Linked DNA regions of Homo sapiens: regions 1, 2 and 3 are each reported to be linked to region 4. Evidence: microRNA targets listed by miRTarBase, many of them from high-throughput screens and not tested one by one. Region 4 holds a microRNA gene; each other region holds the end of a gene's coding sequence.
The links. Region 4 holds the annotated microRNA hsa-miR-376a-5p (GUAGAUUCUCCUUCUAUGAGUA, at 2,109-2,130, opposite strand). A microRNA usually pairs through its seed, bases 2 to 8, with sites in the 3' UTR of a target mRNA and lowers its output. Matches are read on the target gene's strand: a 7mer-m8 pairs with bases 2 to 8, a 7mer-A1 pairs with bases 2 to 7 and ends in A, and an 8mer does both.

Region 1: miRTarBase lists SRSF11 as a target of hsa-miR-376a-5p. The part of its 3' UTR that is shown has no 7-base or 8-base seed match.
Region 2: miRTarBase lists SOX11 as a target of hsa-miR-376a-5p. Seed matches in the 3' UTR shown: 7mer-A1 at 4,717-4,723 and 7mer-A1 at 2,108-2,114.
Region 3: the mRNA of CREB1 is a reported target of hsa-miR-376a-5p. Seed matches in the 3' UTR shown: 7mer-A1 at 2,317-2,323 and 7mer-A1 at 4,124-4,130.

Annotation. Positions count from the first base shown.
Region 1 is chr1:70,250,229-70,257,349 of GRCh38, reverse strand. It overlaps SRSF11 (serine and arginine rich splicing factor 11), which reads right to left. Exons shown (of 12, transcript NM_001350605.2): 11 at 6,847-6,985; 12 at 4,298-6,742. The coding sequence ends at 6,545. Among named protein-coding and RNA genes, the nearest start is that of SRSF11, 32 kb to the right of the region's middle. RefSeq lists a silencer at 3,227-3,427.
Region 2 is chr2:5,693,094-5,700,203 of GRCh38, reverse strand. SOX11 (SRY-box transcription factor 11) reads right to left here. Exons shown (of 1, transcript NM_003108.4): 1 at 1-7,110. The coding sequence ends at 6,157. Among named protein-coding and RNA genes, the nearest start is that of SOX11, 4.3 kb to the right of the region's middle. RefSeq lists silencers at 3,048-3,217, 3,508-3,597.
Region 3 is chr2:207,596,153-207,603,250 of GRCh38, forward strand. CREB1 (cAMP responsive element binding protein 1) reads left to right here. Exons shown (of 8, transcript NM_004379.5): 8 at 762-7,098. The coding sequence ends at 906. It also overlaps a transcript of METTL21A not described here. Among named protein-coding and RNA genes, the nearest start is that of METTL21A, 26 kb to the right of the region's middle.
Region 4 is chr14:101,035,797-101,042,917 of GRCh38, reverse strand. MIR376A1 (microRNA 376a-1) reads right to left here and starts at 2,136; the gene lies at 2,069-2,136. MIR376C (microRNA 376c) reads right to left here and starts at 3,228; the gene lies at 3,163-3,228. MIR376A2 (microRNA 376a-2) reads right to left here and starts at 2,849; the gene lies at 2,770-2,849. It overlaps MIR654 (microRNA 654), which reads right to left and starts at 2,699; the gene lies at 2,619-2,699. It also overlaps MIR376B and MIR300.

The DNA of each region.
Region 1 (7,121 bases), not on the chromosome of region 4:
GGTCTCGGTCTCCTGACCTCGTGATCTGCCCGCCTCAGCCTCCCAAAGTGCTGGGACTACAGGCGTGAGCCACCGCGCCCGGCCGTATGTACTATACTTTTATACAACTGACAGCAGAGTATGTTTGTATACACCAGCATCACCACAAACACATAATGCACTGGGCTAGGATGTTATAATGGCTACGATGTCTCTAGGTAATAGGAATTTTTCAGCTCCTTTATAATCTTTTGAGACTGCGATCCTATATGCAGTCGATTGTTGACCAAAACGAGGCAACATTATGCAATGCATGACTAATGAATATGGATAATGTAGGAGTTTTGGAGGGCTGAAGTGAAACAAATTTTGTAGCTCATACACATTGTGGCTTATCTGCTGCTCCTTTGGGATGAGGCTGCAGTTGGGCCTGCAGTTGTTCCACTGTCCCCAAATCCTCCTTCAGCTTCTCAGACTCATGGGCCAGCTATATTTTGCTCCATGATAAAGAGTCCTGGCTTTGGAAGGACATCCATGCCACCAAGGTCAGAAGCAGCGAGATCTGACCAGAGTGTCAGTCCATGTTTGTGGTTCTAGCTTGTGCTTGTGGCTAGTTCCAGCTTATTCCTAGTGCCACCATCCCTCCCTCAATCATTCACCTTTGCTTTCCAACTGCCTAAAATGAACTTCAACCTCCAGCATCAGATGCAAAGATGAAGCCTTACAAACTGCTTAACTAGGTCTCACCATTGTTGATGTCATATCTGTTAAAAAGTATATCTTCTAGTGGTTCTGCTTCTCTGAATCCTGATTGATATATTAATTTTGTGGAAAGATAAAAATGTTCTTAATCTACTTGATGCTTGTCTTCCAAAATTTGGTATTTAAATGAACAAAATTTTTTTTTTTTTTGAGACGGAGTCTCGCTCTGTCTCCCATGCTGGAGTGCAGTGGCGCGATCTCGGTTCACTGCAAGCTCCGCCTCCCGGGTTCACGCCATTCTCCTGCCTCAGCCTCTCTAGTAGCTGGGACTACAGGCGCCCACCACCACGCCCGGCTAATTTTTTGTATTTTTAGTAGAGACCGGGTTTCACCGTGTTAGTCAGGATGGTCTCGATCTCCTGACCTCGTGATCTGCCTGCCTTGGCCTCCCAAAGTGCTGGTATTACAGGCCTCTGAGCCATCGCGCCCGGCCTAAATGAACACATTTTAACTTTGCCAATTTAGTGAATAAAAAAGCAGTTTTTACATTTAACATAACGTCAAAATTACATTTAGTATATTTGCAGAAAGCACAACCATTTTTTTTTTTTTTTGAGACAGTCTGTCGCTTTGCCTGGAGTGCAGTGGTGCAATCTTGGGTCACTGCAACCTCCGCTTCCCGGGCTCAAGCAATCCTCCCACCGCAACCTCCCAGGTAGCTGGGAGTACAAGTCCGTGCCACCATGCCTGGCTAATTTTCGTATTTTTTTTTTTTTTTAAGACACAGGGTTTTACAATGTTGTCCAGGCTGGTCTTGAATTCTTGGGCTCAAGCAATCTGCCTGCCTGGGCCTTCCAAAATGCTGGGATTACAGGTGTGAGGTACCATGCCCGTCAGAAAATAACTTTTTTGAGATGGAGTTTCGCTCTGTCGCCCAGGCTGGAGGGCAGTGGCGCGATATTGGCTCACTGCAAGCTCCGCCTCCTGGGTTCATGCCATTCTCCTGCCTCAGTCTCCCCAGTGCTGGGACTACAGGCGCCTGAGACCACTCCCGGCTAATTTTTTTGTGTTTTTAGTAGAGACGGGGTTTCACTGTGTTAGCCAGGATGGTCTCAATCTCCCGACCTCGTGATCTGCCGGCCTCGGCCTCCCAAAGTGCTGGGATTACAGGCGTGAGCCACCGCGCCCTGCTAGAAAGTAATTTTTTAAATTACATTTTGGGATAACTGAACGTGAATGATATTAAACATCATTTGGAACATTCTATTTTTTGTGACCCTAGACCTTCAATTTCTCATGCGCAAACCATATTTTGGCAAACTAGCTTTTTATTTTTATTTATTTTTTGAGACAGAATCTCGCTCTGTCACCCAGGCTGGAGTGCAGTGGAGTGGGGTGGCGTGATCTTGGCTCACTGCAACTTCCGCCTCCTGAGTGCAAGCGATTCTCCTGCCTCAGCCTGCCAAGTAGCCGGGATTACAGGTATGCACCACCATACCCGGCTAATTTTGTATTTTTAGTAGAGATGGTTTCACCATGTTGGCCAGGATGATCTCGAACTCCTTACCTCAAGGGATCCACCCACCTCAGCCTCCCAAAGTGCTGGGATTACAGGCGTGAGCCACCGCACCCAGCCCTAACTAGCTTTTTTTTTAAAAAAGACATCATGGTACTAATTTTAGTGACAGTGCATTGCAAAAATAACCTTTAATAAATTGAGAAATCTGAGAATGATGTGAATGTGTCACTTCCATTATTTTTGTAAGAACATTTTATTGGTCACCTAGAAATATTAGTCATATCAGACTGTAAATTGTCTTAAGACTGCTAAACATCGGCCGGGCACGGTGGCTCATGCCTGTAATCCCAGCACTTTGGGAGGCGGATCACGAGGTCAGGAGACAGAGACCATCCTGGTCAACATGGTGAAACCCCGTCTCGCGTAAAATTACAAAAATTAGCTGGGCATGGTAGTGCATGCCTGTAGTCCCAGCTACTCGGGAGGCTGAGGCAGGAGAGTTGCTTGAACCCGGGAGGCGGAGGTTTCAGTGAGCCAAGATTGCATCACTGCCCTCCAGCCTGGCGACGACCATGACAGAACGAAACTCCGTCACACACACACACACACACACACACACACACACACACACACACACACGATTGCTAACCATCTTCTATGATAAACCTTAAGTATATTCTAAAGAATATTACCACTGATAAAAGAATTGTCATGGTACTCACCTAAGATATTTTGCTAAGAATGTCTAAATAAATTTCACATATACTTTGACATAAAATGAAAATGGGAATAGAAACAAAACTGAGTAAAACAGGTTGAAATTCAAAATATCTACCACTCCAAAAATTGTCTCATTGAGAAATTTATAAAGGTACAATTACTACTTCTGCTAATAAAACCTTAATAGACATTCTGAATGCTTTTAAAAGTATGAGTAACAATTCCATTACACCCATATTTAATTAAAACACAACCACATGTACTTGATTAGAAAAAATAGAAGCACAGGGATGAAATGCATTAGCTGGTTTTGAGGCAGACTGAGGGAAAAGAAATCTCAATTCCATTTGAAAAGATGTGTATCAATCTACAAACAGCATGCATGGATCCAACCCTTCATCTAGTGCCCAACTGAGTGATAATTTTGCTAGAGATAAATTTGATGTATTAATACTGTAATCTGCATGACATAAGCTGTATAATGCACACTCCAGAACCTGACTCAGTTTTAAGATGTAGCTCCAAGGTTAACAGTAATTTTTATCCTCTCCTTCCTTTTCCCAAGTGCCTATTTGCATTTTTCTGTCTTCCATGTATAGAATTGCCACGAGGAAACTTACCTAAGATCCATCTTCATGAAAACAGTTAAGGGCAACACAGCCTTTTCAATAAAAGGTATGCAATTTATTTTGTGCTTTTAACATTACCCCCTACACAAATTATTAGTTACATAACTTTTAAGGGCCCCATAATCAAATAGCAGCTATCATTTAATGTCCCAGGCACCAAAGGCTACATTTTAAAAATTACTGTTTTACAGATACAGATGGGGTCTTGCTATTACCCAACCTGGAGCGCAGTGGCATGATCATAGTTCACTGCAGCCCCAACTCCTTGGGTTCAAAGTGATCCTCCTGCCTCAACCTCCACAGTAGCTAGAACTACAGGTGTGCACCACCACACCTGGCTATTTATTTTTTTGTAGACAGTGTCTTGCTATGTTGCCTAGGCTGGTCCTGGGCTCAAGCACTCCTGCCTTGGCCTCCCAAAGTGTTGGGATTACAGGCATGAGCCATAGTGCCCAGCCAACAACTTTTATATGCACTGGGAAGCCAAAAAAATTCATGAACTGCTTTATTGTAGTCTGGAACTAAACCCACAATACCTCCGAGGTATGTCTGTACTTTGCAAGGTAGCAATCACTTCCATTTTACCCGTAGGAAACTGAAGGTAAGGAACACAGTTATCTCCAGCTCTATGAAATAAAGACCAAATGCATGACTGGACTCTTATCTTTCCATTTAAAAAAGCTCATTGTATAGCTACCACCTCTCGTTCACTCCTAAAGGATTTAAGCAAATAAATAAGGACAAAACATTTTTCTAACAAAAACCACTTTTATTTTTAAATCAATTTACTATCAAATACACAACAGAACTCGGTGTGGAGGCAGTGTTTGATTTCAACTGGTTATCTGTTAAAAGGCTTGTGTCCCAGTGCAACACTACCTTTGTGCAGAAAATGTTCACTGAAAATAAATATCCTAAGAATGGATAATCTTCACTGTAGCATCTTGTCAGTGGCACTACTTTTAAAAAAATGATTCCCTTTAGAAAAGCTAGTATATTTGTATTCAGAGATTACAAGTGAGGGAACACACTGTGAATATTAGGTTTACCATATGTGAAATTTGTTTTTGACTTACAAAAATGCCCATGTCACATGGTTCACCTTTTATCTACTAAAGTTTAAAACAAATGTCATTTGTGTTGAACTTTGTTTTTTAAAAATGCAGTGATTAGGACCATTATTAGAACTTCTTTTACTCACTATAGACAATTCTTTTTGATAAAATCTTTAAAAAGTTACTTACTACAAACTGTAAAAACAATGCTGTTTTTCTATATGGCATTTCAGTTTTTAGGTTAAAAAAAACAAAACAAAACCCTATTTATACTCAAAACTTGGATAAAAGCTACAATTCCAAGTCTCATTTTCCCTTAACCCCAGCCACCCAAACACTACTCATTTCATAAATGAATACTATTTAGTACTGTACAGTAGATACATATTGACAGCTTCTATACTACTCCAGAAAGGCAAATATCTGTATTTCACCGAAAATATAAATTTGCTAGATATAGGTGGGATTTGTTTATACTAAAGTTCATTGCTTTATCCAACCCCATTCCCACACAAAAAATAAGCAATAAAATGATACTAAGCTAAGAAAAGGACTATTTTGGATAGAAATTAAATCATTTTTGACAATTTTGATGGCAATTATCACTACAGTGATAGACTTCCTCTTTTTACTATACTGAAATATGTGGACAGAAAGGGAAAGAATTTGTAAAATGAATGAGGTAAATGTCATACATTCAGTAGCGTAAATAAATACAAATACGGTTTTACAGGAACATGAACATAAGTTTAAGGGTTTTATTATCAAAGTCTTGTAAAACAATTTCAGAAACTGTACATCAACATGGCACAGACTGTAGCCTACTTTTGTTTCTACTGCACAAAAGTGAAGCTTGAAACTTCTGTAACTAAGAAAACAGTTGCCTACTTTGCATATATAACATGAAATCACCGTGTGCATAAGATTACTACTGCAGTAACACAAATTTATTGGTTTTATACAACTTGAGATCAAATAAAGGTACATTATCAAGTAGATTTGTCTTATTTTAAAAGCGTATGAAGGTCAATTTAAAATGCACTACCCCTTTTTTCCAACACGGAGCTTAAAACAAATTAATGAAAGAGTGGAAAATTCAAAATAAGGGCAAGAGATAAGGTTTTTTTCTTTTTTTCCTTTAAGATAGACTCAGGATAGGTAGATAGCTTTCACTGATGTAGATGTGGAATAAATTATTACTTCAGGAAAAAAATTCCCAAACATCTTATGAAAAAGTATACAACTCTACTTCAAAATATGCTATTTACTCACTGCCAAAGACAGTTTTATTTGAAATCTTGTTTCTGTATTTAAACCCTAATTAGCCACCAAAAAAGGTTAGTGCATAATAACCTTTCAAAGTTAAACAAAAGCCACAAAAATTTTGCCACAAGGCTTAAAGGATTATCTATTTCAAATGCTCATTTCCAGATGTAACTATAAGAATGTTAATTTGTCATGTCAACAAACAAGACCATAAGTAGATCCATCATGTTGGAGGATTTTAATGACATTTAGGATATTCTTGCCACAATAACATGCAATCAGTGCATTTCCTACATGGCTCTATTACGGCAATGAATCAAATTATAGAAATACTATAAGTGAACTTACTTAATAAAGGATATCATACGACATAAACAATCCATGCCTGCTGTAGATGCATGCAGCTTTTCATTTTTGTTATGAAGCAGCACCAGAATAGTAAAACTGCTTGGTTACTCAATCAGATTTCACCATGACAAGAATTGGTTACCTCGTACCATTTTCTAAAAGCTTTTTGATGTAAATAACTAATATGAGTAACAGGAGCTTTATAACCATTTATAACTCAGAGCTGTATACATCTAGGTTTGAGATGAACAAATACAGCATTAAGAAATCACACAAAGGAATGACACTGATGCAGGTATACAGTTGGACTCCCTCAGAGGCAATATTCAGTCACTCATATCCATGTCTTCTTCATGATGATCATCCCCATTCACTTTGGATTCTCTTAGTGAATCACCAGTTCCCTTTTCCACAGAACATTCCTTTGTTTTAGGGGAACCTGTTTCTATTGGTTTCTTCTCTTCTTTTTTCTCTTTCTCACTGTCATACCCCTGTTCCTCTTCATCATAATCCCGTGTAACCTGCTTTGCCAAGGAGAATAATAAAAGTAAACTTCTCCAAAGAAAAATAACTTCTGAAAGTACCAACATCACCCCAAATATAAAAATAAATCAATTTGTAAACATACTTTTACATCTTTATCACTCTCTGATTTTCTTTCCCGGTCCTTTTCCTTATCTTTACTCTTCTTCTTCTTGCTTGTTGATCGTTCTCTTTCATCCCTACTTCTTTCTTTGTCTTTATCTTTCTTCTTCTCCTTTTTATGTCTAGAATGACAGTAAAATGTACAGCAACAGGTTTAACTTGTTTAGATGATGAGCCTGACTCAATTTCACAGGATATAAGTAGTACAGCAAAGATCCAACTTCAAAACCTTGGAGAAGTAACACAGGCTACAAAACT
Region 2 (7,110 bases), not on the chromosome of region 4:
TCCAGGTTGCTTAAATTCACCAATTGCTCATTGGAAACCACATCTCAACTCGGTCATATTGCTTTTAGTGGTTTGTTTCTCTGTAGAGAAGTTCTCTGTTCACAACTGCAGGCAACCAAAAGTTCCCAAATCATTTAAAACAGTCCTATCTGTGCACTGGCAGAGGTGCTAGATCTTGTAAGAATATCTCTACCCAATAAAGTTATTACTTTTATACATGGAACATTATGAGCTTGTGTCTCCCTTTGTAAGCCGTTTTATACTTTCTGCACTTTTGTGCTTTTATTGAGTATAAAAATAGGTCTCCTTTAAAATTCTGTTTATTTTAAGTTCACTAAAAAACTACTTGTTTGTGAAATTCTCTTATAAACTCACTGCATCCACATGGAACAGATAAAACTAATTAGGCAGCTAATGGATATAGGTAGTGTTAAAAAAGTACAATGAAAAAAACGAAGGTATGGTAGGAATCAAGGAAAAAAAAAAAAAAAAAAGCCAGCAGTAAGTAAAATGGAAGAGAGCTCAGTTTCATAAATTTTGTTTCATCTTTATTGTGGTTGAAAATGTAGGCTCCACAGGAAGGGGCAAAAACCAAAACTGAACAAAAAAATCCTGAGTTGTTATCAAAGAGCAGAATTTTCCAGATCATTAAATAAAAGGGGATGTTGTAGAATAAATCAAATAGAATGAACAGTGAGAAATAACCAATAATAAAAATAAGCCAAATCTCAGAAAAGTATGTCAAGAGTTACATGGAGACGGTTACTTTGGGAACTTGTAAATCCCTGTGTTAGGATAGGTAAGGCTCATTCTTGTTATCCTCACAGGCTTAGGCTATACAAAGGGTATTTGAAACTGACATTCCTAATGGAAATTTTACAAAATTTGGCCCTTAGAATAACTGAGAAATATCCTGAAAAAATCTTCCCTGAAACTGTAATAAAGAAAGTTTCTTATCTACTGATAAAATTGACAACTCAGTAAACTATTTTCGCTGGTCTTCCTACATAAGAAAAAAGCACAAATATATTTGCCTCAGAAATCTGTTAAAAGCAGGGAACCACACAGTAAAAGAGTATAAAGATTCTATAAATGGGAGAGTCCAAGAAAACCTCTCTCAAAGTGTCCACAAGGATACATATGCCCATTAGAAGAAAAGTAAGAATATACATATTATTAATCATATCAGAGAATAAAAAAGTTAAGATTGATATAATATATTTATATTGAATGACTACTTTAAAATAGAGCAACTTATTTGCCTTATTTCTCAAATTCCTTGGGCAAAAGTCACTTAAATTCTGAAGTAAAAAACAAATGTAAATTTCTTGTACTGTACTAATATCAGATGATTATGATTTCAAGTCCCAGAAGAGAAAAATAAGTCTTGTCTTTTGAGTCTTTTTCTTTCATGAAAAAAGCAACTAAATCACCCTGACTGCTACATTTATGCATATTTAAATCACTTCCCCTTGATTAACATTAAAAAGAAACATCTCTGCCCAAAAGAGTTGTAATGATTTCTTTCTCTAGCTAAAGGATAATCATTCTACAAATAATTTGCCCAGTGTCTGTAGTCATTCATAACATACACAATATTTGCAAAGCACAGTTTAAGTACACTGCCTTTTATTAGCATTTTTTTTTTTTTTAAATAAAAGGGATGCGTATCAGAGTGTAAGAACTGGAAATTACTTCCACAGTTTAAAGAATTAATAAGAGAATGCTGGTTCAATTTCTTAAAGATGGAAAGCTTACCAAAATGCCATCAGAGTCTGTGAACTACTTATAATAAACAGCAGGATCCCCACTGGCTAGGCTGCCGTGCACACAGCACCCACCCGCCACCCCCAGGTTACCATTTTAAGATATTCTGTCAATGCTTAGTTAAAAATAAGACTTACTTAAGAGACCAACAAAAAAAAATCAATTAAACTTTTATTGAAGACTATCCAGTGGCAAGAATACCATGTGTATTATACTATGTTTTAGACACTCAATAAAGAATTCATTAAGATGATTCTCACAACGCACTCATCAAAACAGCCTTAAATATTGTTAAAAAGCGCATTGAAGCGCCTGTCCTGAGTTCTAACAGGTTTTAAATTTAGATTGCCAAACAATTACTTTTATTTTTGTATCAAGTTAGGCCACATGGCTTTAAAAAAAAAAAATCTTGACTATCTCTTCCCATTCTGAAGCCAAATTATTACTTTACTAATTTACTTAAAGTTTCCACCTCACCACAGAAAATGTCCAAGATTCATCTATGATTAAAACAGAAAAGACATGCCAAGTTTTCAGGCTTTCAAAATACATAGATCAGCCTATCAATGGGTTTACGTTGCCAACAAGTTTCGGAACTGCAGCAGAGGGCTGCCACATAAAATCACCAGCACGGAGCACGTGTCAATTGTAAACCGCTGGTTCAATTATCCGTGGCTAAAATAAATGTACCACCAATGGCTGCATTAGTCTACATGTTGAGGGGGTGTGGGGTAAGGTAAACAACTCCAGAAATCCAGTTCTATATTGAGAACCTGGTTAACGCCATCAGCCCCTTCTTTTCCCAAATGTACTACTGAAATCTGATGGTTTATCGAAAGGAAAAAGCCACAGAAAAGAAACCTGTCCATCTGCAGCAAAAGCTTGCTGGCTTCGCATCCCAGGGGTGGGGGCTGGGGAGGAGGCTCGCCCAGAGCGGGAGGCTGGGGGGCGGGTGAGAGGCCCGAGTTCTCAGTCGGGGGGCCGGGGGAGGGGTGGTGGTAAGATCGAGTAAGGCAAAAGCAAGCGGGAGGGGAGGCGGGAAGGGCGCCGGGGCCCCTCTGGCCTAGCAGCTGCAGTTACTGTGCGGACGCTTCCATTCGGTCTCGCCAAATCTCAGTAAAAATGGAAGGCCAAACCTCGGTCAATCATCTCAGTAGGTGAAAGAGTCGTGGTGATTTTGCAGTGAGTTTCAATCAGCCACTGAAAACCTCCTCCGCTGCGGGCGCCGCAGCTCGGGAGGCTGAACTCCGGGGCTGGCACGCTGGGCCCCGAGCGGCCTCCCAGCCTCCCTCCTCCCAGACCCAGCAGAAAAGAGGCGGCGGATGCTCGGAAGGGGGGCGGGAGCCCGGGGCGCGCGTGCCCGGCCGCGATCGCCTGCTCGGGCCTGCCGCGAGGGCTCGGGGACACAGGCCGGTCAGGAAAAATGGTGGGGAGCGAGGGGGTGTGGACAGGCAAACGGGGTTCAGCGAGCGGGGAGCGCCAGCGGGATGGGTCGCGCCCGCGCCGCCGCCGGAGCCCCCAGGAGGCTCCCGGAGAACAATCAAGATGCGGATCCACCTTCGTTGCGGCGGCCCCGGGGAGCTGATTCCGGGGCAGCCCCTGAGCCGGCGCGCGGGGAGGGCGTGGTGAGGGCCCGGGGTGCGCGGGTGCGGCAGCCGCCTGCTCCCCGGGTTTGCTTTCTTCCTCTCACCCCGCAGCCCCGAGGCTTCCCTCCCCGGCCCGCGGGCCCGGGAAGCCAGCGCTGGTGTCTCCGCGCGCCTCAAGGGCCCGCGGCGGGGCGCGCCCAGGAGCACGCGGTGGCGAGGCAAGAAGAGCCAGGCACGGGGACCCGGAGCGTCAGGGCTCTGCCTTGCGCGTCCCGGACTACCGCCCGGGTGCCCTCTGCCACCCCCTGCTCCCCACGCCCTCACCAGTGGTTCGGCCCTCCCAGGCACCCCGGAGACCGCGACTCGGATCGCACAGAGGCCATGCCATGTTCCTCGGGGTGCCCTCGGCCGGCCTGCCGCGTCTTCCCCCGACTCCCGCCTCCCTCCCGCTCGTAGCCTGGGTCCCGCCGCGCCCCGCGCCCCCTGCGGCCCCGCACCGTCCTCCTTCCCTCCGACAGCTCCACGGCCCCGGGGGACAGAAGGAAACAGACACCGACCACTTCTCTCCTTTCCTCTTCCCCTTCCCCCTTCACCGCTAGAGGTCAAACACTGCGGCGGCGTTCTCCGCCAACAACCACCTCTGAGCACACGCGAAGATGCAGCGTTAAAAATAAAGAACAGAAAAAATTCAAATCTGGAAACGGCTGTCCCCACCCTTTGAGAGGCGGGGATAGAAGTGCCCCGAGCGCTCGCTGCCAAAGGCGGCTGTCACCGCGAGGCTCAGCGGGGACGCGGCCCGCCGCAGAGAACACACAAGCCCCAGCGAGCAGGACCCCGACCAAGGGAGCTGGCAACCCAGGCCCCTCCATCCGCCCCTCCCCGGCCAGCTCCCGAGCCTCCGCGCAGCCCGCCCGCCAGGATGGGTGGGGAGAAGAGGCAGGGAGTGGAGGAGGAGGTGAGAAAGGAAATGGGGAGCTGGAGATGGAAAGGGAGGGCAGAGAGAAAGAACACCCTTCCCCTGTCTTTCACAACTAGCGGAAGAGGAAAAAGAAATCAGCCTGCTAATTGAACACTTTTCAGCCTAACCCCCTAAATGTAGAATTCTCTCCTGCCACCTCCCCTCATCCGCGCACACAACAGCCTCACCACCGAATGCTCTGCGACAACAGGACCTCCAGTTTGACTTCCATAGAGACTATTGGCGATGCGAGTTTCTATCAGTTCCAGCTGATTTATTAAAATTGTCAAGATACAGACTTCCAGCACAAAAAAAAAAAAAAAAAAACAGGCAATGATGTCGACAGTGCATTGAGTCTGCTTTGCCACCATTTGCTACAAAATATGCAGATGGTCTGTACTTTATTTAGATTATATTGCACAAAATGAGAAACTTTTTAAACTATGTGCCTTTTTTTTTTCTTTTTTGCTAAAAATCGAGAATCCAGTTTCAAACCTTCCATCTGGGGCCCCATCCACATCACAGCGTATGAGATACATAAAGTCCTACTATAGTACAGTACATATACAATCTTTAAACTAAGATAACAGCTCTGAGGTCTATATCACCATTTTCAATAAATCTTTACCTACAAATATTGAACAAATCTCTACTATAGCTGTACAAAAAAAAGTTTGCTTTTTTTTTTTAAACCACAAGGCCTTTAGATGCAAGGATTATTTTAAAATTTTAATCCTTTTTAAACCAGGACATAACGTACCAACATACTTGCATGCTAAAAAACAGAGGAAAAAAAAGAAATCAAAAGGGAAGAAGTGCCTGAAAGTCTTACTGAAAAAACACAGCAAGAATGTTCCCTTTTCACTGTACAAAAATACGCCTGAAAATATATTAATTTTTAAAAAAGACTGAGGTCTGTTATGTATCAAAAATGTTTCAATACCTTTTGTACTGAGGTCTAGGCTGTCTGGTATTCAATCAAGGAGGTATAAGGGAACAAGTTACAAAAAAAAAGTTGGCAAGTAGAAATCACATTTGTAAAACCATAAACAATTTGATCTGAAAAGTAAACTCTGATCTTAAGTCAGTTCACAGTTTTTTTTTTTGTAAGCGTTTGTACAGTCTGCATTTTTTCAAGCTCCCTGCAGTTTTGTTAAGAATCGGATGCATAGAAGACATCAGTTTTCTCCCTCCAAAAAAAAAAAAAAAAAAAAAAAAAAAAAAAATTAAATTAACAAAAGTTGCAATGGTCCCTTTTTTTGTTAAAAAAAAATCACCAGTTCTTTAAGTTCTCTTAAGAAAAAAAAATATCTCCACCAACTCCCTAGAGTAACAGTTGTGCTGCCAAAAGGGTCCTCTGCAGACGTCTTCCAGACTTCAAAGACCGACAAGCTTCAAACAGCGCCTTCCGGAGCGGGTCCTACCTCCCCTCCCCCGCCCCGCCCCCTCTGCCTTTGTTGCAATCACGAATTTCAGGAAAAAGAAATAGTAATTACAAAAACACATTTTTTGGGAAAATAATCACAACTCCAGACTAGGTATGCAACTACCTTGAGACACGATAAAGGAAGGGAGGGGGGACAAAAAAAGGACAGGAAAAATGTTTAAAAACTACTCATTTCACTTTAACTCCACCAAAATTTTCATCATGTTTTCCAATTTCTTTGCGTCACGACATCTTATCAATATCATCAGCATCTTCTTCTCTCCCCTCCACCCTACCACCGCCACCATCAACACCACCATCATCATCATCATTATCATCATCATCATCACCACTACAACTTCCTCCCAAGGAACCCAGCTCTGCACCCTCCGAGAGAAAGAGCGAGCAGCGGGCGCCTTTCAATATGTGAACACCAGGTCGGAGAAGTTCGCCTCCAGCCAGTCCCCCGCGATCATCTCGCTCAGCTCCGGCGTGCAGTAGTCGGGGAACTCGAAGTGGGAGCCCAGGCTGCCCTCGCTGAACGAATCCAAATCCTTATCCACCAGCGACAGGGACAGGTTCCCGGCCGCCGCGCCGCCCCCCAGCTGCTGCTCGCTGGCGCTGTGCGCGCTTTGAGAGAAATTCAAGCTCAGGTCGAACATCAGGTCGTCGGCGTCCTCGCCGCTGCTGCCGCTGCTGCTGCCGCTGCTGCTGGACGAGGAGGTGGACACCGAGCGCGAGGACGCGGGCGACAGCGCGGGCTGCGCGAGCGGCGGCGGGTGCTGCTTGGTGATGTTCTTGAAGCTGTAGTAGAGGCGGCTGCCGCCCCCGGCGCCCGAGGTCGCGCCGGCCCGCACCTCGTCGTAGAGGCTCGCTCCCTCGGGGGACTCCGCCGAGCTGCTCAGCGTAGGGCTGGCGGGCACTTTGGCGACGTTGTAGCGTCTCAGCAGCTGCGACGGCTGCTGCCCCGGCGGCTGCAGGAGCTGCTGGTGCGGTGGTTCCTCGTCCTCCTCGTCCGGCTCCTGTTTGATCTGCAGCTGCAGCTCGTCGTCGTCGTCGTCGTCGTCGTCGTCCTCATCCAGAAACACGCACTTGACCGTCTTGCCCGCGCCGCCGCCGCCCGAGCCGCTCACGCGCAGGCTGCCCAGCACGTAGTCGTCGCCCGCGCCCCCGTAGTCCCCGGACTGGGCCGCCTTGCCCGCGCCCGCCTTGGCGCCCGCGGCCGCGGGGGCCTTGAGCTTGCCGCATTTCTTGCTGGAGCCCTTGGAGGTCTTGGCACCGCCCGCGCCTCCGCCCGCGCTCCCGCCGCCGCCGCCGGCCGCGCTCTTCTCTGGGCTCTGGCTGGCGCTGGGCTTGGCCGAGGGGTCCATTTT
Region 3 (7,098 bases), not on the chromosome of region 4:
AAGGTGCGGCCCAACCTCACTCTTTTGCATGTGGATATCCAGGTTTCCCAGCACCATTTGTTGAAGAGACTGTTAGATTTTTTTAAATGCCCTGAAATGATTAGTTTGTAAGATTTTCTATTTAAAGGATTGTTACACATTGAAATTTAGCTTTAATGTTTTCTTAGTTATTGATATGGATAGAATTTCAAGTTTTGCAGGAATTATGCAGAATATTTTAATTAATAGTAAGATGTAATTTTTAAGTGGTCATTTAGGTCTTGTTTGTTTATGGAGTTGTTTTTTTGTTTGTTTCTTTGAGACGGAGTCTCACTCTTGTCACTCAGGCTGGAGTGCAGTGGCGCAATCTCAGCTTACTGCAGCCTCTGCCTCCCAGGTTCAAGCGATGCCCATGGCTCAGCCTTCCAAGTAGCTGGGACTACAGGCATGTGCCGCCACACCCCGCTAATTTTTGTGTTTATAGTAGAGAGGGGTTTCATCATGTTGGCCAGGCTGATCTTGGACTCCTGACCTCAGGTGATCTCCCTGCCTTGGCCCCCGAAAGTGCTGGGATTACAGGCGTGAGCCGCCACGCCTGGCCAGATTAAAATTTTAATATAAGGTAATTTCCAAGTAATTCTGTATATCTTTTCCAATGCTTAATATATACTAAAATGTTGGTTGCTGTGAGCTATTTCTTTAAAAAAGAAAAAAAAAAGGTAATCCAAAATAAATATGTGGAAATCATTTGCATAATTTTTCCCGTCCTCTTTTGCTTGTAGGGAAGCAGCTCGAGAGTGTCGTAGAAAGAAGAAAGAATATGTGAAATGTTTAGAAAACAGAGTGGCAGTGCTTGAAAATCAAAACAAGACATTGATTGAGGAGCTAAAAGCACTTAAGGACCTTTACTGCCACAAATCAGATTAATTTGGGATTTAAATTTTCACCTGTTAAGGTGGAAAATGGACTGGCTTGGCCACAACCTGAAAGACAAAATAAACATTTTATTTTCTAAACATTTCTTTTTTTCTATGCGCAAAACTGCCTGAAAGCAACTACAGAATTTCATTCATTTGTGCTTTTGCATTAAACTGTGAATGTTCCAACACCTGCCTCCACTTCTCCCCTCAAGAAATTTTCAACGCCAGGAATCATGAAGAGACTTCTGCTTTTCAACCCCCACCCTCCTCAAGAAGTAATAATTTGTTTACTTGTAAATTGATGGGAGAAATGAGGAAAAGAAAATCTTTTTAAAAATGATTTCAAGGTTTGTGCTGAGCTCCTTGATTGCCTTAGGGACAGAATTACCCCAGCCTCTTGAGCTGAAGTAATGTGTGGGCCGCATGCATAAAGTAAGTAAGGTGCAATGAAGAAGTGTTGATTGCCAAATTGACATGTTGTCACATTCTCATTGTGAATTATGTAAAGTTGTTAAGAGACATACCCTCTAAAAAAGAACTTTAGCATGGTATTGAAGGAATTAGAAATGAATTTGGAGTGCTTTTTATGTATGTTGTCTTCTTCAATACTGAAAATTTGTCCTTGGTTCTTAAAAGCATTCTGTACTAATACAGCTCTTCCATAGGGCAGTTGTTGCTTCTTAATTCAGTTCTGTATGTGTTCAACATTTTTGAATACATTAAAAGAAGTAACCAACTGAACGACAAAGCATGGTATTTGAATTTTAAATTAAAGCAAAGTAAATAAAAGTACAAAGCATATTTTAGTTAGTACTAAATTCTTAGTAAAATGCTGATCAGTAAACCAATCCCTTGAGTTATATAACAAGATTTTTAAATAAATGTTATTGTCCTCACCTTCAAAAATATTTATATTGTCACTCATTTACGTAAAAAGATATTTCTAATTTACTGTTGCCCATTGCACTTACATACCACCACCAAGAAAGCCTTCAAGATGTCAAATAAAGCAAAGTGATATATATTTGTTTATGAAATGTTACATGTAGAAAAATACTGATTTTAAATATTTTCCATATTAACAATTTAACAGAGAATCTCTAGTGAATTTTTTAAATGAAAGAAGTTGTAAGGATATAAAAAGTACAGTGTTAGATGTGCACAAGGAAAGTTATTTTCAGACATATTTGAATGACTGCTGTACTGCAATATTTGGATTGTCATTCTTACAAAACATTTTTTTGTTCTCTTGTAAAAAGAGTAGTTATTAGTTCTGCTTTAGCTTTCCAATATGCTGTATAGCCTTTGTCATTTTATAATTTTAATTCCTGATTAAAACAGTCTGTATTTGTGTATATCATACATTGTTTTCAATACCACTTTTAATTGTTACTCATTTTATTCACTAAGCTCGATAAATCTAACAGTTACTCTTAAAAAAAAAAAAAAAAGACTAAGGTGGATTTTAAAAATTGGAAACTGACATAATGTTAGGTTATAATTTCTCATTTGGAGCCGGGCGCAGTGGCTCACGCCTGTAATCCCAGCACTTTGGGAGGCCAAGGTGGGTGGATCACCTGTGGTCAAGAGTTCAAGACCAGCCTGGCCATCATGGTGAAACCCCATCTCTACTAAAAATACAAAAATTAGCCAGGCGTGGTGGCTGGCGCCTGTAATCCCAGCTACTCAGGAGGTTGAGGCAGCAGAATTGCTTGAACCCAGGAGGCAGAGGGTTGCAGTGAGCCGAGATAGCACCATTGCACTCCAGCCTGGGCGACTCCATCTCAAAAAATAAAAATAAAAAAAATGTCTCATTTGGGAAGGAAATTCCTTTTAAAAAAGAGTTGAGACACTTAGAAAACTAATGTTTTATATTTAGTCAAGAGTTATTTAAGAAAGTCAAGCTTGTTTAACAACAAAATATGAAGATTTAAGTGTTAATTGCTGGATCCATTTTAAAATAAGATTTTAATTAACATTTGTAAATGGTATATTTTCGTTTGTAACAAACCATTGTCTTTTTTCAAGGATGAACAGAGTTTATGAAGGAGCATCATTCTAAGAATTAAGTGATGTAGTCTTTATGTTTGGACAGTTCACCAGATTCTCAAGAAGGCTTTCAAACAACTATAAAGTTTGATGTTTGTCCTGCTGAGCTAATGGGGAAAGTTATAGCATAAAAATTGTGTAACCGCATAGATATGTCATTTTTAAAAACTGGTTTAACAGAAATCAAGCAAAGTCACAAATATGTTCACAAGTTGGAATTATTTATTGAGTCAAAATGTCGAATCGAACATTTTGAATGAAGTAAGTGTTATAAATGAAAAATTGCCTGATGTTTAGCAGTTTGTATTCTCTAAAGCTTTTTTTCAAAAGTTCAGGCTTTCTACTTACTGGGAAGTTGGTGGTCCTCTTAGTCCCTGATAAATCAAGGCAATCACATTCATGTGAGCTGGATGAATTTATAAGTTATAAAGACCTTATCCTTCATACCTTGAGGATGATTGCACTGGTTTTGAAGTCAGTTGCTTAATGATGAGGTGAGAAATGTATCCTGTTGCTAAATCTGTCTTAGACCCTTGGTGAAACTTGAAGATTTCAGTTTATAAAGATAAAATCAAGCATCTTTTGTGCAGTTTTCTTTTTTTAATGCAAGAATGGTGGGGAGGTTTGTTTGTAAGCATGAAACTTTGAGAATCTTTATTAAGAAAATGACATAATTTTTAAAAACCTTGTAGCCAAGAACATATGTGGCCACATTACCAGTAATAAATGTTTTTCTCTTTATATTGGCCAAAAGGGAATAAAAATGTCATCATAGGAATTTGTACATATGCTACTGATTTGCCTAGAAAATAGCAAGTTTGATATTGCTCACTTTGCAAATATAGGGCCATGTGGCACTTTTATCTATAGGACAGATTAATAAAAATGAAGTGGGGAGGGGTTTATTTTTGATATATTACTCTTATGAGTTTTCAAGCTTTGATAATGTTTAACTGAAAAGTGGCTTAGAAAGGGCTAGATCCAATGTGTTCATTATTAAATAATTGCTATCAGATACAATTTTAAGTTCATTCTTTTTCAAACTCAAGTACCATATTGGCAACCATAATATTGTCATAGGTGCTCTCTTCATTTAGATATTCTTGGGGGGGGTGGCATTTGTATAATATATGTGTACATATATATATATATATATATATATACATACAGTATATAATCTAAAGCTCTGAGAGCTCTTAAGTCAGGAATGCTGAGTATTATAGTATATTGAGGTCAGATGAAATTTTACATTTTTGTGTGTTCTGTTGCATTCCTTCTGGTAGTTTCTATGACTGCATTACTCCAGCACTCATGATTGATTTTATCTTCTAATTTTCTTCCAAGTATTTTATTTTTTATTAGTTTTCTTTGGCTTGATACTTTTAAATATGTTACTAGTCACTTGAAAGCCTCTCCCCCAAAAGTATTTGGTTTGTATGCTTTGTCTGTGGCAGCTATAACAGTGGTAAGAACATTTTGAAGATAGCTTTTTAAAGGAACCACTGATTTTTTCAAAAATCATCCTGGGGGAGGAATTTTGGCATTTCATTTGAGCAGGGATTTTGTCAGAAAATGTGTTTTGATGGTAGGTCAGCAGCAGTGCTAGTCTCTGAAAGCACAATACCAGTCAGGCAGCCTATCCCATCAGATGTCATCTGGCTGAAGTTTATCTCTGTCTCTCAGGATAAATCCCTGTAGGACAAATCCCTACTATCATTTCTACCTTTTGGGGTGACATGTGGAATCATACAAAGGCTTAGGAAGAAATACGTTTGTTTAAACCAGGATGCTTTACTTACTTGAAGTGACTTCAATCTAGATTTCTTTTAATATTTAACAAATTTTTAATTCTATGATCAGCCACAGTCAGCTATTACCATAAATTGGTCTCTGTTTATTTTGAAGATCACGGCTGCTTCATTTTGCAGGATTAAGTAGGGCTAATGTATCTTAAAGTTAAGATCTTGAATTAAAGTGAGTTTTAGAAATAGTGTTACATACCTTTTCAGTTGTTTTCAAGAGGCTTTATTTTTGTTGCCTTTGTAGCCCTGAAAGCTGTTGGTATATTTTTTCCCTCATGGACCCAATAGAAAAGTTGTATATTTATTTGGATTATATTTACATTCTGTCCTTTGTAAATGTTTGGTGTAACTTGCACTTTTTTAAATGACCCAGTTTGGGTATTAGCAACTTAAGAAATTCCCTCATCAAGTAATTCTCAACTTTTTAGTCTTTCTCCTCTCTTCAAATCATGTGACTTTTTAAATGGAAGTTTTTCATTGATTAAAATATTTTAGCACCTAAAAGCTAGCCTTAAAAACAGCTGTAAAAGAAAAACATCAGGAAATTAGATATGACTAGCCCAGTTAATTAAAAGACGGGCTCAAACCTTGTTTTATTCTTTTTCATCTTGGATGAAGATTGAAGGGAAAATAACTCAAGTGCATAATATTTATTTTCAATTTTTAATGAGACTTTATCCTCATCACAACATTAATACTGTACATAGTATGCCAAAATATCCATTAATTTGTCTAGAATAGTACAAGACTTTTTAAAGCAATTGTCCTCACAGAGACCACATGTAATATACTGAAATATGTTCATTTTTAATGGCTTTGTTAACATCAAAGAAATGCTGCCTAAATTTGATTTCAGATGAGGAAGGAGAAAGTAAAGTGTGCATAGTAAGGCTGTAGGTGAAGAGTTGTGAGATAAATAGTTCACTCAGTTGTACAAAGCACAACTAGAACTTTTTGTTGGGAGGCTTACATACATCTTGAATATTCTTAATGTAATAATGTTGACTATTAAGTTGGCTACACAGTCACTGTATGTACTAGGAACTGGTTTCCTTGACATTCTAGAATCAATGGCTAGGAGAGGCATTAATCTTTGAGGGGCTGAACATATCATGAAGCTGAGTCAGTATGGAAAATTTTCAAATAAACAGGGTGCTGAAGTTCCATCTGTCTCATCTGCTTATGATAAGTTCTTATTGATTAGTGAATGTAGCTTAAGCCTTTGTATGTGTCCTCAGGGGGCAGACCGACTTTAAGAGGGACCAGATAACGTTTGAATGGAGGGATTATATTTCAGGTGTTTTAGCTTGAAATTTATTTTTTAAAAAAAGAAAAATTTAAAAAATATATAAATAAAATAGAACAAAGCCGGTGATGCAAGTTGATATTATAAACAGGCAGTTTTAGCACAGAAAGAAAATACTGACCTGTCTGCATTCTGGTACGGTGGGTGCAGGTCCCAGCTGGGTATGACATGATACATTTTTAATTATTCTCACCAGCAAGTAAAAGGAAAATGAACAATCTTTTGGAATTGTCTTTGAAAAGGATCAAAGAGTAGGAAATTCACATTTGACCTAACATTACTTGCCTATAGAAGTATGGCATTTCCAAGCTTTTGTCTGAGGAGCATCTCAGAGAAGTGAGAGTAAATCTGAGTTAGCTTAAAAATTGGTAGGGAGGAAGAAAATCTCTGCAAATAATGATTTTATGTTTGTTGGCCAAGTGAAATGATCTATCATTGTGTTTGGGAGGTTTTATTTTCTTATGTTTTTAAAATTGGTAAATGCTTTATAGATGTATTTTTATCCAAGTGCCACTCCAATTTGTGTATGTAATAAAATTATTTATATTAAAAGTGGGAAATAATTGTCAACATTTTTTTTGAGTATAGATTTATTAGGGGTGGCAAAGAAGAGTGCTAGTTAGCAGTTTTCCATGTAAAGTTGTCCTTGACTGATTTGTCCACATGTCAGTTGTAACTCCCCCACTCCCTGCAAAAGGAATTATTTCTAACCCAGATGTATCACTTGAAACTTTTTAGAAGCAAAATAATCAGGGAAGTTCCTAGAAAGGTGTTTGGCTTTTTGGTTTTTGAGGGTTGGGGTAAAGAAGACTTCCCCCACAACTGTCAGCACAAAACAGGGTATTGATTTTTAACTCTGATGTTTCTATTGGAGTTGAATACTAAATAAATAACTATAATGAGGGAAATACATTTCTAATAAAATTCCCTACATTCTAGAAACATCCCTGTTTTAATTTTTTTATCTAAATCTTTTTGTGCTTTATGTGTAAAGAAAAAAATGTACTGAGTTACAATGCATTTTATTAACACTATGTACATA
Region 4 (7,121 bases):
CCTGCGAGGCCTGAGACCAAGGGGGAGGGGCCAGGTGACAAGCCTCATCTGGCTGGCCCTGGAGCTGGGGCCTGCCATACAGTTGACTTTACTTCCCAGCATCTCTTCACGACAGGATTGGTTACCAAAAGACAGGCAATCCTGTACCATTTGAAATAATGTAAATGTAAAATGGCTGAAATCCCTTTAGGGCCTGCAAAAACACCCTGGGAGAAGAACCTCTGCCTCTGCCCAAAGCCACTGCCTCCAGGAAGCCCTCCTGGTGAACACTGGCTAAGGGAGGTTAGAAGATGCAGTCACATGCATCATTAAAGAAAAAAGAGAAACAGAAATCCAACGCACTCCGTTTGCAAATCACAAAGCAGCACTATGACAAGTGTCCCTTCTCCTGAATTTGGCATTGTATTCAGAAAGCCATCTGAGCAGTTAGTTGTTACTCAGAAGTATTCATCTAGGGCAAGATTCGTCAAAGGAAAATGAGATTCTCATGGGCCAACTCTCTCTGAATAAACACATGCTAACACCAGGAATCCAAGGGTCTTTCCATTGGCAAGAATCCCTAAAGGACACCAATGGACTAAGAGAGCAGTGGGGCTTAGAGGTCCCAGCAGCAAGTCCTGTAGCCACACTGGGTGCTCTGGGGCCTCCTTCCTGTGGACTGGCCTTCCCTCAAGTGGACAGTGAGGTCCAAAAGTCACTCCAAGGATGGGCTAGGTATGGAGAGTGGGTAGACCAGATGACCCACATCTACATTAGACATTGACTTTGCTGACGGTCATTCTTTCATGTATCTGGGAGATGCACTGACCACGAGACCTCTTCTCAGAGGCTGGCATCATGCTGGGCAGACCTGCCGGAGTAGCAGCCCATGGATGCTTTGTGATAAGTAGGGCCCATCAAGGGAGGCCCTTTGTTCTTTTCTTTTTTTTTTAACCTATTGTGTTGAGACAGGGGTCTCTGTCAGCCAGGCTGAAGTGCAGTGGCACAATCTTGGCTCACTACAACCTCCCAACTCCCGGGCTCAAGTGATCCTCCAGCCTCAACCTCCTAAGTACTGGGACCACAGGCGCACACCATGACACCCAGCTAATTTTTGTATTTTTTGCAGAGATGGGGTTTCGCCAAGTTGCCCACGCTAGTTTCGAACTCCTGGGCTTAAGCCATCCACCGTCTCAGCCTCCCAAAGGGCTGGGGTTACAAGCGTGAGCCACCGTGCCCGGCCAAGGTAGGCCCTTTTTGCTAGGCAGAACAGGTGGTCTGAAGAGAAAACCCTATATCATCTCCAAAGCCAGCATCTCTTCCAGAAAGTTCTTGGAAGGAAGCATGAGATGAGGAGGGTCAGAGAACCAGGTCACAAACAGCAAGACAGAGGCACATGCCCTGTGGTCAACCATCCACACCCCAGGGCTATCCTGGCCATCTAACAGGTTGCTGGAGTCAGCCTTGTTCCCAAGAAGGCTTCCCAGGCAGGATTTGCTCCCCAGAGAGAGTCTGCCCTTGTATAATCATTGCAAGTAAAGCAAATGCGTGAAGGATTACCTCTCTTCAAGTAGCAAATGATGGCAGTGACAGGAAGGCCATTTCCTCTGTGACTAAGTTGCCACCAGCTCCAGGAGCAAGCCTTAGAGACACAGATGGGATCTGCATGGTGAGAGCAGCACACCGAGGTGTGAAGTGCAGGCCCGTGGGTGAATCACACATCTATTCCTTCCATAGCCCCTGAAGCAGTGCCCCTTCCTGAAATTGACAGCCCACTCAGGTATTCTCTAAGGTACAACTAGTCACAGTAAAAGAGGTTCATTCCAGAAAATGCATTGCAATCATGGTAAACATACAGAGAACAAACTTCATTCAAGGTCAATGAGGCAATACTGAGAACACAGCCTTGTAACAACACATTATGTGTGCACCAAGGGCAGTGAGCAAACAGCAGAGAAGCTGACGGCGTATTTCATACAAAGTACAATTCTGTGTCTGTCCGTCCTGTACCCAGGAGGGGTACAGATAACATCTCCTCTTCCATGGCGACTTCACGTCCTCCGAGGTTTTCAAAGCAGCATTTGATACTGAAAACGTGGATTTTCCTCTATGATTAATCATAAATAATGTACTCATAGAAGGAGAATCTACCTTTTAAATACCAAAGAAGGATTCCATCCAGGAAAGCGTGCACCTGTGCTTGAGTCATCAGAAAAGAAAGTCACATGAGGCAGACGAGCTTCCAGGGAAGAACTGGCACCACGAGACCCACAATTTAATCTTCACCAAGTTGGCGTCTCGAGATGGTTCTCGGGCATACCCCGTTCATTCAGATACGACGTGCGGCCTACCATCTTTGCACCTACTCAGGCCCTACGGTCTCTTCCAGAAACATTTCCAAAGCAGCATTTGATACTGAAAACATGGATTTTCCTCTATGATTAACCAGGAATCACGTAAACATAGAAGGAATATCCACGTTTTAAATACCAAAGAAGGACTGGGCTCTGGAAAGGACAAATCTGAACACAGTTCATGGAAAATGGAAGCAAGACAGTAAAGCAACCGTTTTCAGTCCCGTAGCATAGCTGTGACAACACACCACAGCCTGTGCACCAAGCTGGCTCCTCAGCGAAAGGGGGCTTCTAAAGGTGATGGTCAGCAGACATATGGCACGAACTCAGCACATGTTCTGCGGCCCACCATCTTTCCACTTACCCTGGAGGGCTCAGCCCCACCTCACGTCCCTGATGGTGGCTTCAGTCCAGCCATGATCCCAAGGCAGCATTTGATACTGAAAACGTGGATTTTCCTCTATGATTAACCATCAAACACGTAACCATAGAAGGAAAATCTACCTTTTAAATACCAAAGAAGGTTTCATCCCGGAAAGCACGAACCTAAGTACAATCCATCAAACACAAAAGTAACATAGCACAGAGGAGAGCATTCGGCCTCATGGAGAAAATGACGACGGAGCCCAGCCGCTTGGCCGAGCGGGCAGCTTGCGAGAGGGGTCTCCTCAAGGCGGGTGGGTGGTCCGCAGACATATGGCACGAATTCAGCACATGTTCTGAGGTCCACCGACTTTCCACTTACCCTGGAGTGGGGGGGGGGACTTTATTGTCTCTTCCCTGATGGTGGTTTCAGTCCAGGAATGTTTCCAAGCAGCATTTGATACTGAAAACGTGGAATTTCCTCTATGTTTAACCATAAATAACATAAACATAGAAGGAATATCCACCTTTTAAATACCAAAGAAGGATTGAGTCCTGGAAAGCATGAACCTAAGCACAATCTATCAAAATTAAAGACAGCACAGGATAGGTGCAGTCGGCAGGGGCCTCCCGGGCTAGCGGCAGTGACATGGGCCCTGCGGAGGACGCATGTCCCAGGACAGACCTTGCTAACAAGAGCTTAGGTTCTGGGATTCACCTTCCATCACTCTCCGCATGGGGGAGGGAGCTAACCTTCCTCTCAGAAATGTTCAGAAATGTTTTAAAAGCAGCCTTAGATACTGAAAATGCGGATTTTCCTCTATGATTCACCATAAATCCTGTAAGCATAGAAGGAACATCCACCTTTTAGATGGGAAAAGTGGGAACAGCCCTGGAGAGCACAAACGCAAACATGATTCATGAAAGACAGAAGGTAACAGAAGCAGGTGAGCACTTTGCGAGTCCCACGTGGGAAGCGCAGGGCCCACCCCTGGCCTCTTCACATCCAGAGATGGAACTCCTATGCAGGCAAACGTAAGTTTGGGGTCTGCCCTGCTGTCACTCGTCTGGGTGGGGGTAACCCTAATGTCTCTTCCCTAATGGAGGCTTCATGGTCAAGAGCGTTTCCAAAGTAGCATTTAATTCTGAAAAAAAAAAAAAAAAAAAGTGAATGTACATCAAAAATTTGCCACAAGTAAAGCAGGCAAAGTAGGGATTCTATGCTTTGAATTCGAAAAATATCAAAAACAAAAAGAAAATAAGCCTGTCAGGTTCCTAAAGTCACATCGCCTCCATGAAGCCCTCCCAAGGCACCTAATGACCAATGTCATGTAACTGTGGGCTGGAGCATCCTTCACATACCTTGGAGGGAGAAGGACACCCAAGAATCTTCCAGAGACTGAAGCTTGTGTCCAGAAAGTTTCAATCGGCAGGACTGGTCATGTTGGTGTGACAGACTGAGGAATAGGCAAACAGGTCAAAAACAATGTCTCTTTAAATACAACTGAGAGAGGTAGCAAAACATGATGCTCACCAGCCCCTACCACCACCACCCTCCACCACCACCACCACCACCACCACCAACACCACCAACACCACCACCACCAACACCACCACCACCACCACCACCAGTACCACCACCACCACCACCACCACCACCAACACCACCACCACCAACACCACCACCACCATCAGTACCACCACCACCACCACCACCACCAATACCACCAATACCACCACCACCACCACCATCACAACCACCACCACCAACACCACCACCACCAACACCACCACCACCAACACCACCAGTACCACCACCATCACAACCACCACCACCAACACCACCAACACCACCACCACCAACACCACCACCACCACCACCATCAGTACCACCACCACCACCACCACCACCACCACCACCACCACCACCACCATCAGTACCACCACCACCACCACCACCACCAATACCACCATCACCACCATCACCACCACCACCATCACCACCACCACCACCACCACCACCACCACCACTAATACCACCCTCCAAAAACAATGATCACAGCTTCCAGAAAAATCATTTTTGGGGTGGAGTGGATGCAGAGGCTTACTAAAATAGCGACAACACATGCCTCCCATAGCAAAAAATGAAGGACCAATAATCCCAGACTCAAACCCTATCTCGCAAGGGTGCCATCACTCCAGGAAGTGCCGCTAAAACGGCTTCAGTTCTGAGGACCAGGAGACATTTTCCACAAGCAAAGCGTATGCTCCATGTCCCACCCTCCATTCACATTCCACACACGGACAACCTACACCAATCTCACTTCTCTAAAGCTGGAACTGGTTCAAAAAAGTCTTGTACTTGAAAACCACTACTTCTCACACATGCAGAGTTAGACATTCCTCCTACTGGCGAATGGATCAGTGAGTGGACCAGATAACACCCATTGTCTGCTATTAGCCAGTCCCTCCCCTGCAGTCACAGCTTGTTGAGGAAGCAAGTCTGATCCCCCGAAGCCCCCAAGCACGATTTGGCATAAATAAAGCACGTCTACATGGACAAGCATTCTGCACATACCAGCCAGAGCAAGGCCACTTCCCCCAGGTCGGGGCTGCCTCCACGAGGCCCTGTTGAGAACCAGTGGGACATAGCTGGTTAGGGAATTGGACGGTCTGAGTCATAAACATGTATTCTGTGTGGCCAGACATCATTCGTGTCCCAAGGAGTGGGTCTTGCCAGGATGGTCCTGAAGGAGGGGGACATGTGATTGAGGAATAGCTGCTGGCTGGGCTTAGGGGTCTTCTTTTGGTAACTGAAACAGCGGCAGCCTGGAAGAGCTGGGGTAGGTGTAGTAACCAGCCAAGGAACTCTTCTTCCCCTGTGTTGGGAGAAAGGTCAGCCCACACACTGTCTCTTCCAAGGGGCTGGCATCCCTCCCTGAGGGGCCTGGCTAGGGTACCCAGGCTAGTGAACTGACACATCCGTGTCTGCCCCGGGCCCTCAGCTCTAGGTGCAGCTGACTCCCCAGGCCCTGCTGTGGGATGTGGCTGCAGCAGCCCTGCTCAGGACTTGTCCTTAATTGCATATGCCCCTAATTGGTTTCTTCCGCTTTTTTCACCTGCCCCCTCCCCACTTCCTCCTGGAATGGGCTTCCCTGATGGTACTTCCTCTGTGATTAACCATAAATCCTGTAAGCATAGAAGGAACATCCACCTTTTAGATGCAAAAAGTTGCTGGCCAGATGCAGTGGCTCACGCCTGTAATCCCAGCACTTTGGGAAGCCGAGGTGGACGGATCACCTGAGGTCAGGAGTTCGAAACCAGCCTGGCCAACATGGCAAAACCCCATCTCTACTAAAAATACAAAAATTAGCCAGGCACGGTGGTGGGTGCCTGCAATCCCAGCACTTTCGGAGGCTGAGGCGGGCAGATCACAAGGTCAGGAGAGCAAGACCATCCTGGCTAACACAGTGAAACCCCATCTCTACTAAAAATACAAAAAATTAGCCGGGTGTGGTGGCGGGCACCTGTAGTCCCACCTACTCAGGAGGCTGAGGCAGGAGAATGGGATGAACCCGGGAGGCGGAGCTTGCAGTGAGTCGAGATTGCGCCACTGCACTCCAGCCTGGGCAACAGTGTGAGACTCCGTCTCAAAAAAAAAAAAATCAGTTTGCCTCCCATGTAGTCACAAACATTCCCATCCTCCTCACGTATTTGCCATTTTTTTTTCCAGTGTATACCTATGTCCTCCCTATTCTTTAGAGTTTAAGCTTTGGCAATCAAGAGACAAGCTAGTGTATATTTTGCCATTCTTCTAAAACTCTGAAAACTGTGTTACACATGGTTTTGTTCATATTTCTTGGTCCATTTCTTAACAAGAAATTGGTGGTGTAGGACCTAACTTTTTATGTATAGATTTACCTTAGGAAACAGGATTATATGGTGATTCATTCAATAAAGTCTCAATTCTCAAAAGAAAAAACAAATAAAGGAAAACACTTGCCAGCTGTTCCACCATCTGCGCACATACCCTCTGCGAGGGGCTGACAGACACCCACACTGTGTTCCTGAACTTCACACCACGTACAGCAAGTCCTTCAAGGAGGCACTCAGTGCTTTAGGAGGTCCACTGTGGGGTATCTGCCACACACAGAGTGAACACATCACCAATAGCCTCCCTCCAACCATTCCTGGCCGGCTTCTGGGGTGCTGTCTCTCTTCCAGAGCCCAGGGTGTCCTCCTGCAAAGGAAACAGACGGCAAGGGTTAACACACAAGGATACGTACCATCAGAGATGCAAGGCTTCCTTGAGGCCCTCCTCTGACGTACCTGAGGTGATGGAGGCAACAGTGACCCTCTCCTGACATAAGCAGCAGTGAGAGCAGAATCCCCCCTCGATGGGAGACAAGGATCTGGTCGAAAGAG